3 linked regions of the Homo sapiens genome follow. The protein of the gene in region 3 purifies or fractionates together with the protein of the main gene of each other region. This does not show direct contact. Each region holds a gene or a part of one and is shown on either strand. Other genes may lie near its edges.

What was found. Proteins that work in one complex are often made in the same cells at the same time.
Region 1: the proteins of GBP5 (region 3) and APOL2 purify together in Homo sapiens (affinity purification with mass spectrometry; 2 studies listed by BioGRID and IntAct, with this or other methods). This does not show direct contact.
Region 2: the proteins of GBP5 (region 3) and C1orf159 purify together in Homo sapiens (affinity purification with mass spectrometry; 2 studies listed by BioGRID and IntAct, with this or other methods). This does not show direct contact.

What each region holds. Positions count from the first base shown.
Region 1 is NC_000022.11:36,225,678-36,229,547, forward strand, and holds the end of APOL2 (apolipoprotein L2), read right to left. Parts: intron 2,604-3,870; coding exon 1,727-2,603; 3' UTR 532-1,726; downstream 1-531.
Region 2 is NC_000001.11:1,081,292-1,085,109, forward strand, and holds the end of C1orf159 (uncharacterized protein C1orf159 isoform 2 precursor), read right to left. Parts: intron 3,216-3,818; coding exon 3,190-3,215; intron 3,093-3,189; coding exon 3,062-3,092; coding exon of another isoform or gene 2,624-3,061; intron 1,697-2,623; coding exon 1,602-1,696; 3' UTR 532-1,601; downstream 1-531.
Region 3 is NC_000001.11:89,255,841-89,262,891, reverse strand, and holds the end of GBP5 (guanylate-binding protein 5), read left to right. Parts: intron 1-106; coding exon 107-209; intron 210-490; coding exon 491-672; intron 673-2,074; coding exon 2,075-2,188; 3' UTR 2,189-6,703; downstream 6,704-7,051.

The DNA of each region.
Region 1 (3,870 bases), on a different chromosome or scaffold from region 3:
CCCTGAGACCCTGGAAGAAGGATCATGAGGAAGGTTAAGTCAGGCACCCAGAGCCCAGGGGAGCCTCCATCGGCACCACAAAGTCACAGCCATCAGTCAGTGCTGATTGACTCAAGTCTCCAGAACACAAGATGGGGAGAGCAAGGTGGACCTGAGATATCACCTTTTCCAGCCCCCTTCTACAGCTGATGAGGAAACTGAGGCTCAGAGGGGTGAAGTCTCATGACCACAAGCAGGGTTGAACTCCTGGACACACCTCAAGCTTCCTTGACCTGTTCCTGGCATCTCCTTTCATTTTTCCTTTCTTCCCAAATTAACCTCTTTCCAACACAGCACTTCAAGTTCCCCTGGAACTTCATCGGTCCATCGGTGTCCCCTGGTCTGGAAGAGCACCGACCACTTGCCAAGGCCCCCACCACTCTGCTGCCATCACAACCACCATCACCACCATTACGAGAAAAACTTGAGACTGATGGCCCCCAAAGCTTAGAAGGAGCTGAGAGACCAAAGAATGACTCGAACAAGTCCAGCTTGGTGAGTAGGTGAGTTTATTGGGACTTACACACAGGTCAATCCTGGGCAGCGACAGGACAGCTCTAGAGATCTGTGCTTCCTCCCAATGCTAAACTGCTTTCATGCTAATCTTCTGACTGTTTACTTACCGGCTAAGAGCGATGGGACTGTTTTCATTGGTTGGTTCTCAGATACTCTCTGGGAAGTTTGGGTTCTCAGGGACACCTGCTCCTCAGCTGGGGATTGTGGCCATGGCCTACCACCTGCCTCTCAGGGTTCAAGCAGGGGACATGCACCCTTTAGTAACCTGGAGGGGACCCGTCACATGACAACCACCCCAACCACCATCATGAAGAAGCCACTGGCTGACTGTGATACACCCCCAGAAGGACAAGGGAGAGTGGATGCTGGAAAGACAGAGCGAGAGACCATCACCAGGGAAAGACTTTATTCTTGGAAGGACATCAAACCTGGGGGGGGGTCGGTAGTGGAGCTGCTGTTTCTTCTCCTGTATCCAACAGTTCTAACTCTGGTTTTCTCCATTTTCAGCTCTTTCTTTTCCTGGCCTTCTCATTGCTGGTTCCTGCAAGCTCCCCCTCTATTCTTCGCCCAATATATTCTTTAGTCCAAAGTAAACTACTTCTTCCCATTCCCCACACTCTCCAGTCCTCTCTCCTCCCTTATTGCAGGCTCCAGTGTTCCTGCCTTCTCCTTGGTGCACTTGCCATCTGCATTAACCCCTCCCTTGCTGTGCTCAGCTACACAAATGCCAAAGTCACTAACACTCAGTTCCATAAGCTTTACCTTGCCCTCCTTATCCCCCTAATAAAATGTCTGCATTTTGGCCAGGCGCGGTGGCTCACGCCTGTAATCCCAGCACTTTGGGAGGCCGAGGTGGGCAGATCACGAGGTCAGGAGATGGAGACCATCGTGGCTAACACAGTGAAACCCCGTCTCCAGTGAAAATACAAAAAAATTAGCCGGGCGTGGTGGCAGGTGCCTGTAGTCCCAGCTACTCGGGAGACTGAGGCCGGAGAATGGTGTGAACCCGGGAGGCGGAGTTTGCAGTGAGCCGAGATTGAGCCACTGCACTCCATCCTGGGCGATAGAGCGAGACTCCATCTCAAAAAAAAAAAAAAAAAAAAAAAAAAGTCTGCATTTTGTCCTGGCCTGTGCCCGGCATTTCTGCCCTGGTGGCTGCACTGCTCTGGGGTCATTGGTCTTGGCCTGGCTGCAGCATCTCATGGATCTTGGTGAGAAAGTTGAGCTTCCCCTCCAGCTCCTGAGCCCGCTTCTTCAGCTCCTCAGCTGACTCTGACTTTGCCCCCTCAAGCAAGTGCTTTGACTCATATGCAAGGCTGACCACATCCAGCAGAAGCAAGATGCCTCCAGTGGCTGCACCCACGATCATGGTTCCTCTGCTCATTGCCTGGGCGGGGCCTTCAACAACCCTCTCAACCTGTTCACCGCCTTCAGCTGAGATTCGCCCAATGACATGCGGGGGTGGGGCATACGCTCCTAACTGAGGGTTGGCTCTGGCTCGTCTGATGGCACGGATGTTCCTCCCAATCCCTTGTGTGACTTGGTACCAATTGTCAACTAAGGTAAGAACATTGGGTGTGTTCCCACCCACAAACTCCTTCATCACCTTTGCTACATTGGTGCCGCTTTGGTCCAAGTTGCGGGCTTGGGCTCGTGCCCGCAATTTGTTTACTAGTTCTACCACACTGCAGGTAATCCCAGCCACAGCAGCTGCTGCTCCCAGACCCATGCCAGTGTCCAAGAGCACAAAACTGATTCCTTCTGTGAAGGGTGCCAGACCCAGGCCGAGGAGGGTCAGGATGCCAGAGGTAGTGCCAACAGAGTTGGACACCACATTGGCAATGGTGGTGCCTCTGTGGACCTGCTCAACCTCCTCTGCAAGGGCACGGAGCTTCCTTATGTGATCCTCAAGCTCCCTTTTCAACCGAGGAAACTCTTTCAAAAACCACTGCCTGTGCTGCTGGTCTTTATCGTGGCGGTTTTTGTCCTTCATGACCATGTGACTTGCAAGCTTGTTCAGAGCTTTACGGAGCTCATCTGCCTCATCCCTGCACAAGGAAAGGTTAAAGGATTAAGAAATGCAGTTTCCCTATCTGTGAAATGAGCTCCATGCGATCTCTATCCTGTGTAAATTGCAGAGCTTTCACTATCAATCAAATAGAAACAAATTTTACAAATGGAATTAATTATCTTTCAAACTCAAACACATTTTGTTCATCATAGATATTCCTCAGTACTTATTCCATATGGAAATAAATATCTTAAAGGCACCTCAGATGCTCTTTCATGGTAGGTGTTTGATAAAGATGCCTCCTCACTCAAGGGCAGGTCAACACCGTGACTGCCAAAGTGTTTGGAGAGGGAAAACTCTGCAGATGAACAAAGAGCAGTGAGAGTGAGACAAAGAGACCTTATTACCAGGATGGCAGGAAAGTGAAGCATGAACTTTACCCAAAGAGAGGCCTTCCCTTTGTCCTCAGCTCCTGGGAAGTGATCTCCAGGCCCCTGGAATGTCCTGCCTGGTAGGAACATCTTTCTTTGCCTGGTGATTTGGCCACGGGACAGTATAGCGATGTGATGGATGATAGGGTTTGGGGCTATTTGGTGTCTTTCCTGACTTCCAGAGGACTTGGGGACTAAAGGTGTGAGATCTCAGGGAAGGGCTGGAGACTCTAGCCATGAGGGCAGCTTGTGATCCAGCCCCAGCAGATACTCTGGACACTAAGGCATGGGTTGAGAAAGAAGGACTTTCTCCTTGACCAACTCCAGCTGGGCTCTTCAGAGCTTCTTCTCCACTAGGCGCCGACCTTGGCCTTCCACACTCACCCACTGCTTTCTGGACTTGCACCACCTTGGCTCAGCAAGAATCTCCCCAAATCAGTTTAGGGAGGGTCCTCCCCGCTTGCTGTCTGAGCACCGTTTGTTATCTGATCATGCTCCTCACCCCCACCACTGGTGGTTGAGGGTCTGACCTGCCTTTGGCGAGAATCCTGTTAGGCCAGTTTAGCAGGAACCCCCCACTCTGGCGTCTCCTGTCAGTCCTGTTCCATCTCCCGCCCCCACCCTGGTGTTGGCTGTGACTCCCCCTCTGTCTTTACTATATTTGGAGCTGGGCTCAGTCTCCCTCCCCTGTAACAACAATCCTGAATAAAGGCTTCATTTCTGGTTTAATGTGATTCACAGGAATTTTTCCTTAACTGGGTGAGCTTCCCTGGTTGGCAACACCGCATGTGTTTTGTCCCACATTCACACAGGAGAACACAGCCTCCTGAGGACAATGAAGATTCACACCTGAAATCCTCCCAGACTCTGCCC
Region 2 (3,818 bases), about 88 Mb from region 3:
CAGGCAGTGGACGTTTCTGCCTGGGTGGAGGGCACGGTTACGAGAGCAGGGCCCGCGCTCTGGCATCCTGGTGCCCGGGCCCTCTGCCCTCAAGGCCTGTCCTGCCCCAGCTCAGCCCTCTCTGGCCAGGCCCATCACTGTCAGCAAACACCCCCACACTGCTGCCCCCCCAGATGGCCATGGCAGCCCTCCCGGGGCCCGTGTCTGCAGCCCCCACGCAGCCCGGCCGGCCGATGGAAACGCACACCCACACTCTGTCCCACCTCACTCCGAGCTGGGGGTTCGGGGACCACAGGTCCCACCTGCACAGGTTGCATCTGGGGAATGGGCCTGTGGCAGAAAATGTGCGGCGCGGGGCGGGGGGTCCCAACCAGGCAGCCCCAACCTGGACTCTCCTCCACCCCCGTCCCACCTCCTTGCCCCCAGCACACGGTGGCGGAGTGCGTGGGGCCAGCCTGGCGGGGGCTTTGCTCCCCGACCTGCACTTAGAGAACAGAGCATCCTACGGGAGAGAGCAGCTCGGAACGCAGCTTGAGTAATGCCGACTTTATATCAGCACACCCAGTGCCCCCACGTTCCCGCTGGCCCAGGTCCCGGAGACCATGATGGCACCCACAGTGGACTTCGCAAAGGAGCGTGGGGACCCCGAAGGCCAGGCCACCCCTCAGAGGGGGGTCCCATGCTAAAGCAGACGGTGCCGGTGCCGCAGGGCGTCTGAGACCCACGGTGGAGCCCGGGCCTGGCGTGCGGGAGGCGGCCACGACGGCGCCTTTCTCCCAGGAACTCCGGGAGGGACCCCAGGACTCAGCGCCAGGGCAGCCTTGGCAGGTGCAGTGAGGCAGTGACTTGTGGGGGTTAGATGTGGGCCTGCCCCACGTGGGCAGGGATCAGCCAGGCATGGGGGTCCAGCGGATCCGAGCGGGGCCACAGAGCTCTGGAGGACTTTTCTGCACAATGAATTTCTGCTTAAAAACAGAGATCAAGAGGAAGCTCTATCCTGCAGCTCCGGAAATGGGTGGCTGCGTGCTTGGGGTCTCCGCCACGCGGGAGGACAGCCCAGAGGCACCCTGGTCTCAGGCAGCTGGTTCCTAGGCTGTGTCCTCCCCACTGGCCGGGCACCGGCTGGAACGGCACGAGGACCAGCCTCACTGTTCTCAGAGGGGTCTCGGGCCACTGGGTGTGGTGGTGCTGGAGGAGTCCTGCCCGCTGTGGGCTCTGGAGGGCACGGCAGCAGAGCCCCTGGCTTTTCTAGGCAGAGCGGCACCTGCCCCATAGATCGTGCCAGCTTTGGCTGCAGGCGCTGGGGCCTCACCGTGTTTCCTGGGGGGGCCCGGACCCCCCAAGGCCTCGATCTGAAGCTCTGAGGTCTCATGGATGCCTGCTCCTGGTCCGATAAACGAGATGGCTGTGGTGGGGAGGAGCCTCAGGCGGCCCGGGACCCTTTGGCGTCCGTCGCTGGGAGGCGGAGGGACTCAGAGCCGAGGCTGTGCCCAGGACTGTCCCGGGCGCCGGGCGATGCCAACACTTTGTGCTGGTTCCCGCCAAGGGGTCGGCCTCCGGGTCCCTGCCGCCAAGTGCGTGGCGTGGTCTCGGCCTCCAGGTCAGACATTGCTGATACGGGCCTCCCCCGGGAAGGCAGCGGGATCCGTGGCCCTGTCCAGGGGCCGCTCCCGCCTGACGTAGCGCGGCTTCCGTACTGAAACGGGTCAGAGACAGGCGAGGTCAGAGTGGGACCTGGACAGCAGGGACAGTGCAGGCCTCAGCCCTCACCGGAGGCTCTCGGGAGTGGGCATATGGCACAGGCGCCCGGGGCTGTTTACTCTGACCAGGTGGGAACCCAGATGCCCCCTGCCCCTAAGGCGCCCTCAGAGCTCCAGCTCGGGAAAGGGACGGCTTCCTCCTGCCCGGCTGTGTCCTCTCATTTACACCCTGGGCCCCGGGGCCTGGACAAGGGCCAGGCGATCCCCGAAGACAGAGATGTGGGTCCCAGAGTATCATGCACCTCAGGGGGCGACAAGCAGGCCGTAGTCCCAAGACCTCGAATGTGACCTTATTTAGAAGAAGGGGCTTTGCAGGGGGTTACGTCAGGGTCTCAGGTGTGATCGCCCAGGGTTCCCCGGGCAGGCCCTGAAACAACGGCCAGGGCCCACCTGAGAGAGAGGCAGAGAGAGAAGACGCAGAGGTGGGGGAGACGCCGTGGGACCAGGGGACAGAGACGGGCAACGCAGCCACAGATGCCTGAGCCGGCAGGGGCTGGGAAGGCAGACAGCGTCCTCCCCGGAGCCTCGGGAAGCGTGTGGCCTTGTTTGCCCCTTGGTTTTGGACTTCTGAACTCTAGGATAGTCAGATTAAAGGTCTGCTGTTGAAGCTGGCAGCCCCGGGGCACTCGGGCACCGTGGGGTCTGCTGGGCACTTGCAGACAGGGCTGCTTTAGGGACGGGGCACGTCCAGCCTTGATGGAGAACGGTCTGTCCCCTAAAGGCACGGTCACCTGCCCCCATGACAGACTTCTGCACAGGGGGACGGAGGCCGGGTGAGCCCTGCTCATGGCCTTGGAGCTGTGTGGCTGTGCGCCGGTCACTCAGCCTGTGTCTGTGGCCCCGCACATAAAATGGGTCCTAACCGGGCTGACTCTTGGGTCCGCCTGACCCAGCACCACTGAAGCGATGGCTGCTCAGGAGGGCCTGGCGGAGGCCGGCTGCGTCTGTCCTCGGGTGGAGCTGGACTTCAAGGAGGAGCAGGTATTGGGGGTCTGCCCTGTCGTGGTGGGTCCTCCTTTCCTGCAGACCCCACGTCTCGGGAACAGGAAAGAGCATGGAAGTCACGGGGATTAAAGGGGGGCGGGCAGGGGGCGCCGGCCAAATCCAGCTGAGATCCAGAGCAGGGGGCACCAGCCAAATCCGGCCCTGGCCCTGCCTTGTGGGTGGGTCTCCTGGGGACCCGGGCAGGGGTGGCCGAGATCCAGAGCCAGGCAAACCCGTTTGGGGACAAACCCACAGAGCACCCTGGGACTGGCCCAGAGATGGGAAACCCCACAGGGGGATGCGACAGCTGCTGTTACCTGAGGACTGTGGCGGGGGGATCATTGCAGCCTTGAAAAGGAGAGAAAGGCAGAGTGAGGACTCGGGATGGCCTGGCACAGGCACACGCGGCCAGGGACGCTCAGCCCGGATGATGTGGGTTACTTACGGCTTCGCCAGGCTGCAGGGCCGGAGCTGTGGGGGAGAAAGCGGAGAGTCACCCTGGAGCCCAGGAGCTGCCTCAACCTCAGCCCAGTGCAGCGTCCGGGACAGCAGAGCGAGGAGCTGCCTCAGCCTCAGCCCAGTGCGGCGTCCTCGGAGCAGCAGAGGCCCCGGGGCTGCAGGGTCTCCCCCAACCTCTCCCTGCGGTGCATCAGCCTGGCCCTCGGTCCTGCCACATTCCTCCGGGGCACTCACAGGTGCGGGGGCCTCCCTAGCACCCCAGGTGAGTCCCCGCTCCCTGGACCCACCTTCCCGCCTCAGCAGAGGGGACAAGCCCCCCTCATGAGAAGCGTCTCCCCAGGCTCCAGGGTCCCAGGGGAAGGGCTGCCCTCCCACCCTCCCGGGAGGAGCCTCAGGCACGAGGTGGCTTTGAGCCCCACGGCCGTGGGCTTCTGCCTCCATGGTGCCCCCGCGATGGGGGTGCCGTGGCATCGTGGCCAACCTGGCTTCTCGTCCCGTGGCCACCAGGGCTGACCAAGCCCTGAGCCCTGCTCTGCTCCAAGGGTGCCCATAGGCAGAGATGCTGAGCAGGCCGGGTCTCTCGGTGCCTGGCTGTGCAGGAGACCCTGGCAGCGG
Region 3 (7,051 bases):
CTCTCCTATGAGGAATAGATGCTGCTGGAAGGAACAAGACAAAGATGTTTACAACATTCCTAATCACCATTTCCTGCATCTAACTGCATGTTTTCCGGGTTGCTAGGCTGAAGAAGTTCTGCAGAAATATTTAAAGTCCAAGGAGTCTGTGAGTCATGCAATATTACAGACTGACCAGGCTCTCACAGAGACGGAAAAAAAGAAGAAAGGTGAGAAGAAAGTGGAAATTATGCAAGATAGAAAGAAATCTATAAATTTTAAATAAATTTGGCCTGGCCCTCATGGGATGTTAAACTAGAGCAAGAATGGCAAAGATGCTTCTTAGCTCCTCAAGCATATCTGACTGGCATGATCCTGCATTGTGGTTACCTGGAAGGGAAAAACAACCCCTGGGAATTTTATCCAGGAAGTTGGAACAATCACAAACAAAAGTGGGAGGCAGAAGGAAGAGGCACATTAATCCTAGAGAAGATTATCTTTTTCTCCTCAGAGGCACAAGTGAAAGCAGAAGCTGAAAAGGCTGAAGCGCAAAGGTTGGCGGCGATTCAAAGGCAGAACGAGCAAATGATGCAGGAGAGGGAGAGACTCCATCAGGAACAAGTGAGACAAATGGAGATAGCCAAACAAAATTGGCTGGCAGAGCAACAGAAAATGCAGGAACAACAGATGCAGGTATTCATCAATTGTTTCATCTCTCCCCTGCCTGTAACGATGAGAGTATGTAGCAGTGGCAAAGAGGGAGAGGCAGCAAGATCTTGTGGCTCTCAGCAGGGAGTCTGGAGCCAGAAAGTCTGGGTATGAATCCAAGCTCCACCTCTTAGTAAGTATATGGTTTAGGCAAGTTATCTATCACCTCTGTGCCTAATTTTCCTCTTGTGTAAAATGGACACAGTGATGATATCTATGTTATAGGGTTATTTTGATAATTAAATGAGTTAATATTTGTGTTTAAATGGTGCCCGATACAGAGTAAGCACTATATGTTGTTAAATAAAAACCAAGGCATTTCTGGGCTGCAGTAACTGGTCTTTCCTGTTGACTTGTTAATTGTCCTGGATGATCTTTTGCTTTGGTCATAGATACTTTGTTAATCTGATTTCATGTTACTGTGTCTATGCCCCTGTTCTTGCCTTGATCATCTCTGTTCTGAAGGCCTTTAATTTGCCAGTTTGTTTCATCCGGTCCTTTACTTTTATTTACCAATCACTGTCAGTAGTTACCAAGCACTCTCCAGTAGTTATTATTTATCAGTCACTGTCATAGCACTTTACATGCATTATCTCATCTAATCCATTCACTGTAAAGCAGAACTACTGTGTCCTCATTTTTCAGATGAGATAAGTGGGGTTTCAAAGAGATAATCAATGCAAATATCACACAAGCCTAGCACATTAACAAAACTGCCTTCCAAATGAGTGGAATCTGCAGTGTTTTTGCTTCTTCAGACCTGGTGTAAAATTCCTATGTCAGCACCCTAATGAGACAAATGACATCCTAATTCTTCCCCTTGGCTTGCCAGTTTGTAGGTACTAGTTTTTCAGAAGTTACTCTAAAATATTTCTGATTGCAGCTCCTTCCTAAAGAGCAGTATGAGCAGCATGTGGTTATTTATGTATTCACTCTTTTCTCCTACTTCTGTGGTGACCTGGAACAAATTCTCTTATGTATGTAAAGATTGGACAGCCCACCTGATTCCGATGTCACTTAGATACACTGTTTTTGTATCAGCCTCTTCTCTTAGAAATATATCTGAGAGTCTCCTGTGTGTGTATGAGAATTGAAGTCAAGATGTGACTAAGATTGCCCAAGGAGATCGTGTGGTTTAAGGGGGAAGGGAGCTTTGGTTTGGAATCCTAGGGACACCAATATTCCAGGGATGAGAAATGACCATTTCTGGAGCTAGAGAAAGACAAGGAGGGTGAATAATTACAGAAATAGGTTAGATGCACGTGAATGGAAGAGAGATATTCAGGAACTGTTTACTGCTACTGTAGATGAAAAGAAGTAAGGACAAGTGAGTGATTTAGGCAATCAGTAAGAAGCTTGATCTTACTTTCTATTTATCACTCTTTAGGAACAGGCTGCACAGCTCAGCACAACATTCCAAGCTCAAAATAGAAGCCTTCTCAGTGAGCTCCAGCACGCCCAGAGGACTGTTAATAACGATGATCCATGTGTTTTACTCTAAAGTGCTAAATATGGGAGTTTCCTTTTTTTACTCTTTGTCACTGATGACACAACAGAAAAGAAACTGTAGACCTTGGGACAATCAACATTTAAATAAACTTTATAATTATTTTTTCAAACTTTCATATAGAGTTATAAGATTATGATGCTGGTATCTGGTAAAATGTACATCCCAGTAGTCCAATAGTTTAAATGTTTATTGCTTCCTTTAAGAGATTATAAATTGTATAAGGGACATTGTATCACTGCCTTCATTTATGCGTGATATTGGGATGGTTTCATCAGGAGATGCTTTCCTTGCATCTCAATGTCATCTGTCTAATTTCTCATAAGGGGATTATGTTACCTAGAGCAGGGCTTCCCAACCCTCAGGCCATAGACTAGCTCTGATCTGTGGCCTCTTAGGAACCCGGCCACACAGCAGGAGGTGAGCAGCAGGTAAGTGAGCATTACAGCCTGAGCTCCACCTCCTGTCAGATCAGCAGTGACATTAGATTCTCACAGGAGTGGGAACCCTATTGTGAACTGTGCATGCAAAAGATCTAGGTTGTGTGATCCTTGTGGAACAATATAAACCAGAAACCAATAACGCCACCCCACCTCCAACCCCCGCCAACCCTCTGTGGAAAAATTACCTTCCACGAAACTGGTCCCTGATGCCAAATAGGTTGGGGGACCGCTGACCTAGAGGGAGTTATGCACATGGGCTTATAAGGTTAGCCAAGAGAAAGGACAAGAAGACCCAAAGTCGGCAAGCAAATTTATTAACCTGCTGGGCTGCTCTACAGAAATCTGAGGAGGCAGACACCGGGCTTACAGGCTAAGGGGTATAAGTAGGTCTGCAGGGGTTTTGTGTGTGTGTGCGGGGGTGTCGGGGGGGCAAGGCCATTTGTGGAGACTTTTCCTCCCAGTATGGCCACATCCTGCAGTTTGTCAGTTTTTGCCCCCGCCTGGCTCAGGGTACCAGGATGTGGTTTAGCTTAGGGGTGGTTATAGTGGCACCTAAGTTCTGGGAACTTGCGGTGGGGGCGACCTTTTGGACGAAAAATAAGCTGCAGGGCAGCTAGGGGAGGGGGCTTGTTATATTCCTCTGGGGGCAGGGTGTCCCTAACTGGGCTCAGTCGGAAGGAACTTGACCAAAGTCTGGGCTCAGTTGGGCATCACTCAGGCTAATGGTCGTGTGCTGGATGCCATCAGAGGGAAGTACCAATGGTAAAGTGGAAACAATGTGCAGCTTTCAACTGGGTGGAGGCTGCTATTCTGTGGACAGTGAGATGTTTCCTTGGCACTGTCAATAGACAATCTGCGTAGAGAAATTCCAAGCTGAAAGCCAATAATGTTATAATAAAATAGAGATTCTTCAGAAGATGAAAGGAATTACCAGCATGGAAATTGTGTCATAGGCTTAAGGGCTAAAGAAGAAGCCTTTTCTTTTCTGTTCACCCTCACCAAGAGCACAACTTAAATAGGGCATTTTATAACCTGAACACAATTTATATTGGACTTAATTATTATGTGTAATATGTTTATAATCCTTTAGATCTTATAAATATGTGGTATAAGGAATGCCATATAATGTGCCAAAAATCTGAGTGCATTTAATTTAATGCTTGCTTATAGTGCTAAAGTTAAATGATCTTAATTCTTTGCAATTATATATGAAAAATGACTGATTTTTCTTAAAATATGTAACTTATATAAATATATCTGTTTGTACAGATTTTAACCATAAAAACATTTTTGGAAAACCATAAATCAGTTCCTTTGTTTGTATTTTTCTCAAAGTTAAAAGTCTATAGAGAAAGACTGAATTTCCCTAAGGAGATTAAGAATTGCTTTAAGACTAGAATTAAAACACACTTTATTACATCTTTTTATGTACTTTTTGTTACTTTGTTTTGTATATCTCCAGTAAAATTTTTTTTGTTTAAATTATAGAAACATTACACAAAGCTCTGTTTTTCTCCCTTATAAGTACTTACTCATATAAGGAATTTTCCACTTAGGTAATATGATAGGAGCTTGAATTTTTTTAGTCACCCAAAATATGATTTACTTATATACAGAAAAAAGCCGAAAAATTTTAGTGTCTGCTCTTTTTACTGTTCTTTGAAGAGCTTTAATATGAGGAATTTTTCATATCAGATAGGATGTGGTGCTACTCAGCAGTATTTCTAGATTTGAACTGAAGTTCAGAAGGTACCAGCATATTCAACTGAGCATTTGTCTAGCAATACCCTACAATTACCTTTTCAAGCTGTGCAATTTATAAAGAAAAAAATACATTTTATCATCCAAGGAAATGTTATCAGTAAAAAGAATAGCTCTATCTCCAAATTAAATATTGATATCTTTATTACCCATCTTAAAGAAATTTTTTAAAATCCTGAGACTCAGAAAATTAAGTCATTTAAGGTTTCACACCTTGTTACTGTTAACCTAGACCATGTTACAAAGTAGTTGATTTCTAGTCTAATTTAACTTTTGCTATTATATCTCCCCCACCAAAAACCAGAGAGGCATGCTGCTTTCATTAGTGATCCACAGATATTCTTCCCCACCAGCTTCCCTGGATCCCACTCATCCCCAAATACTCTGATCTCACAGGTTAGAGATCTGTCACTGGGTGCAAAAGAACAAGAAAAGGCACTGTAAGGTAAACATTGATGATTTCTTGAAACTACCAGTAAGTAGCTTATATTTTCTGACTTTCTTTGTCTTACTGTTGTGAAATCAACTGATCTAGTTTTAAATGTAATGAAAAGCAAAGCAATAGATTCTCCCCTAGAGCCTGCAGATGGAATGCAGCCTTGTTAACATCTTGATTTAAGCTTCACAGACTTCTGATTTCCAAAACTGTAAGATAATAAGCTTCTGTTGTTTTAAGCCACAAAATTAGTAATAATTTGTTATAGCAGCAATAGGAAACAAGTACAAAATCTTTATTAGTTAATACTATGAATAGTTATTCATACCAGCTAAGAGATATTTGGAATTTATTATGGATCACTTTATTATGGTCACTGTAGTAATTCACCTGTTGCTCATAAAAACCTTATAAACATTTAGTATTGTTTTATGGCAATTGTTATTTTAAACAATATTATCAATGTATGTTAGTGTTATCATTATTAAAGTTATTATTGTTAAAGCATTGAAATTAAATAAATTAAGGTCAGTACCACAGAAGGCCTTTTGAATTTAGAACCCACATTAATAACCATCTTGTGGTACTTTCTTATCTTGCTTAGTGATACGGTTTGGCTGTGTCCACTCAAATCTCATCTTGAATTATGGCTCCCATAATGCCCACGTGTTGTGGGAGGGACCAGGTGGGAGGTAATCAAATCATGGGGGTGGGTTTTCATGTGCTTTTTTCATGATAGTGAATAAGTCGCCTGAGATCTGATGGCTTCATAAAGGGCAATTCCCCTGCACATGCTCTCTTGCCTGACACCATGTAAGATGTGCCTTTGTTCCTCTTTCATCTTCTGCTGTGGTTGTGAGGCCTCCCCACCCATGTGAAACTACAAGTCCATTACATCTCTTTTCCTTTATAAATTACCCAGTCTTGAGTATTTCTTCATAGCAGTATGAAAATGGACTAATATACTTAGGAAAACATAGAAATACTGAATAATGTGTTAAAATTTAGAAGGAATTACTAAAATAATTGAAATCAAAAGCATAGATTCAAAACAATGTATAAGAATTCAGCACAAAATAAGCAGGTAAAGAAATTTCTAAAATGAAGTAGAGAAAATGTGGTAATGACTCTAGTGTATAACGATCACCAACAGAATAGAAAGTCCAAAAAATAGACTTTATAGGAATAATACAGGGTAAAGATAGACTTCTTAGTAGGTTGGGACTACTGGATGGCCATATAGGAAAAGATCAAGTTGTAACCAGACCTCACACACAATACACTAAAATAAGAAAAAGGAACCACACCCAAATTGATAAAATATAAAATGTAAAACTATGAAAATGCATTTGAAGAAATCAAGGTTATGTTCTTCATAAACCTGTAGAGGAGAGGGCCTTTCTAAATGTGACTCAAAACTCTTGAAATCTCTCTTGACCCCATGTCTCAGTCAGTTTCAACACAATCTTTGTTCCCTTTCAAAGCAATATTTTAGTTAGTTACATCCCATTCTCTGTTTTTCAAAATTATTAAATGTGACACATACTGAAGAGTACAAAAAACATAAAATGTACAATATTCAATATAAATAAATTACAAGATGAACGCACAAGTAACAACCCAGGTACATACATTCAGCATTACTAAAATTCTATAGGTGTATATGACAACTTCTGACAACCCTGCTAGAGCCAACTAATATCACAACTTTCACAACTATTTTCTAGGATTTTATTATAAACATGTGAGCTCCTAAGTAATGTAATTTTGTTTGGCCTGTTTTCAAACTTTATTTAAATGGAATTACATTGTTTGTATTCTTTTATGCCTTGCTTCATTTGTTAATAAAATCTTTATAAGATTCATCTAGTTCATTGTGTGTAGTTGTAAGCTATATATATTCTACTGTTTAAAGATAACAATTCATTCTACTATTAATACATATCTGGATTTTCAGGTTTACCTTATGAAATGTTATTAAGGACATTCTTTTTTTTTTCTGTTTTTTTTTTTTTATGAGACAGAGTCTCACTCTATCACCCAGGCTGGAGTGAAGTGGCATGATCTCGGCTCAAGGCAACTTCTGCCTCCCAGGTTCAAGCAATTCTCATGCCTCAGCCTCCCAACTAGCTGGGACTACAGGCACACACCACTATGCCTGGCTAATTTTTGCATTTTTAGTAGAGATAGCGTCTCACCATGTTGTACAGGCAGGTC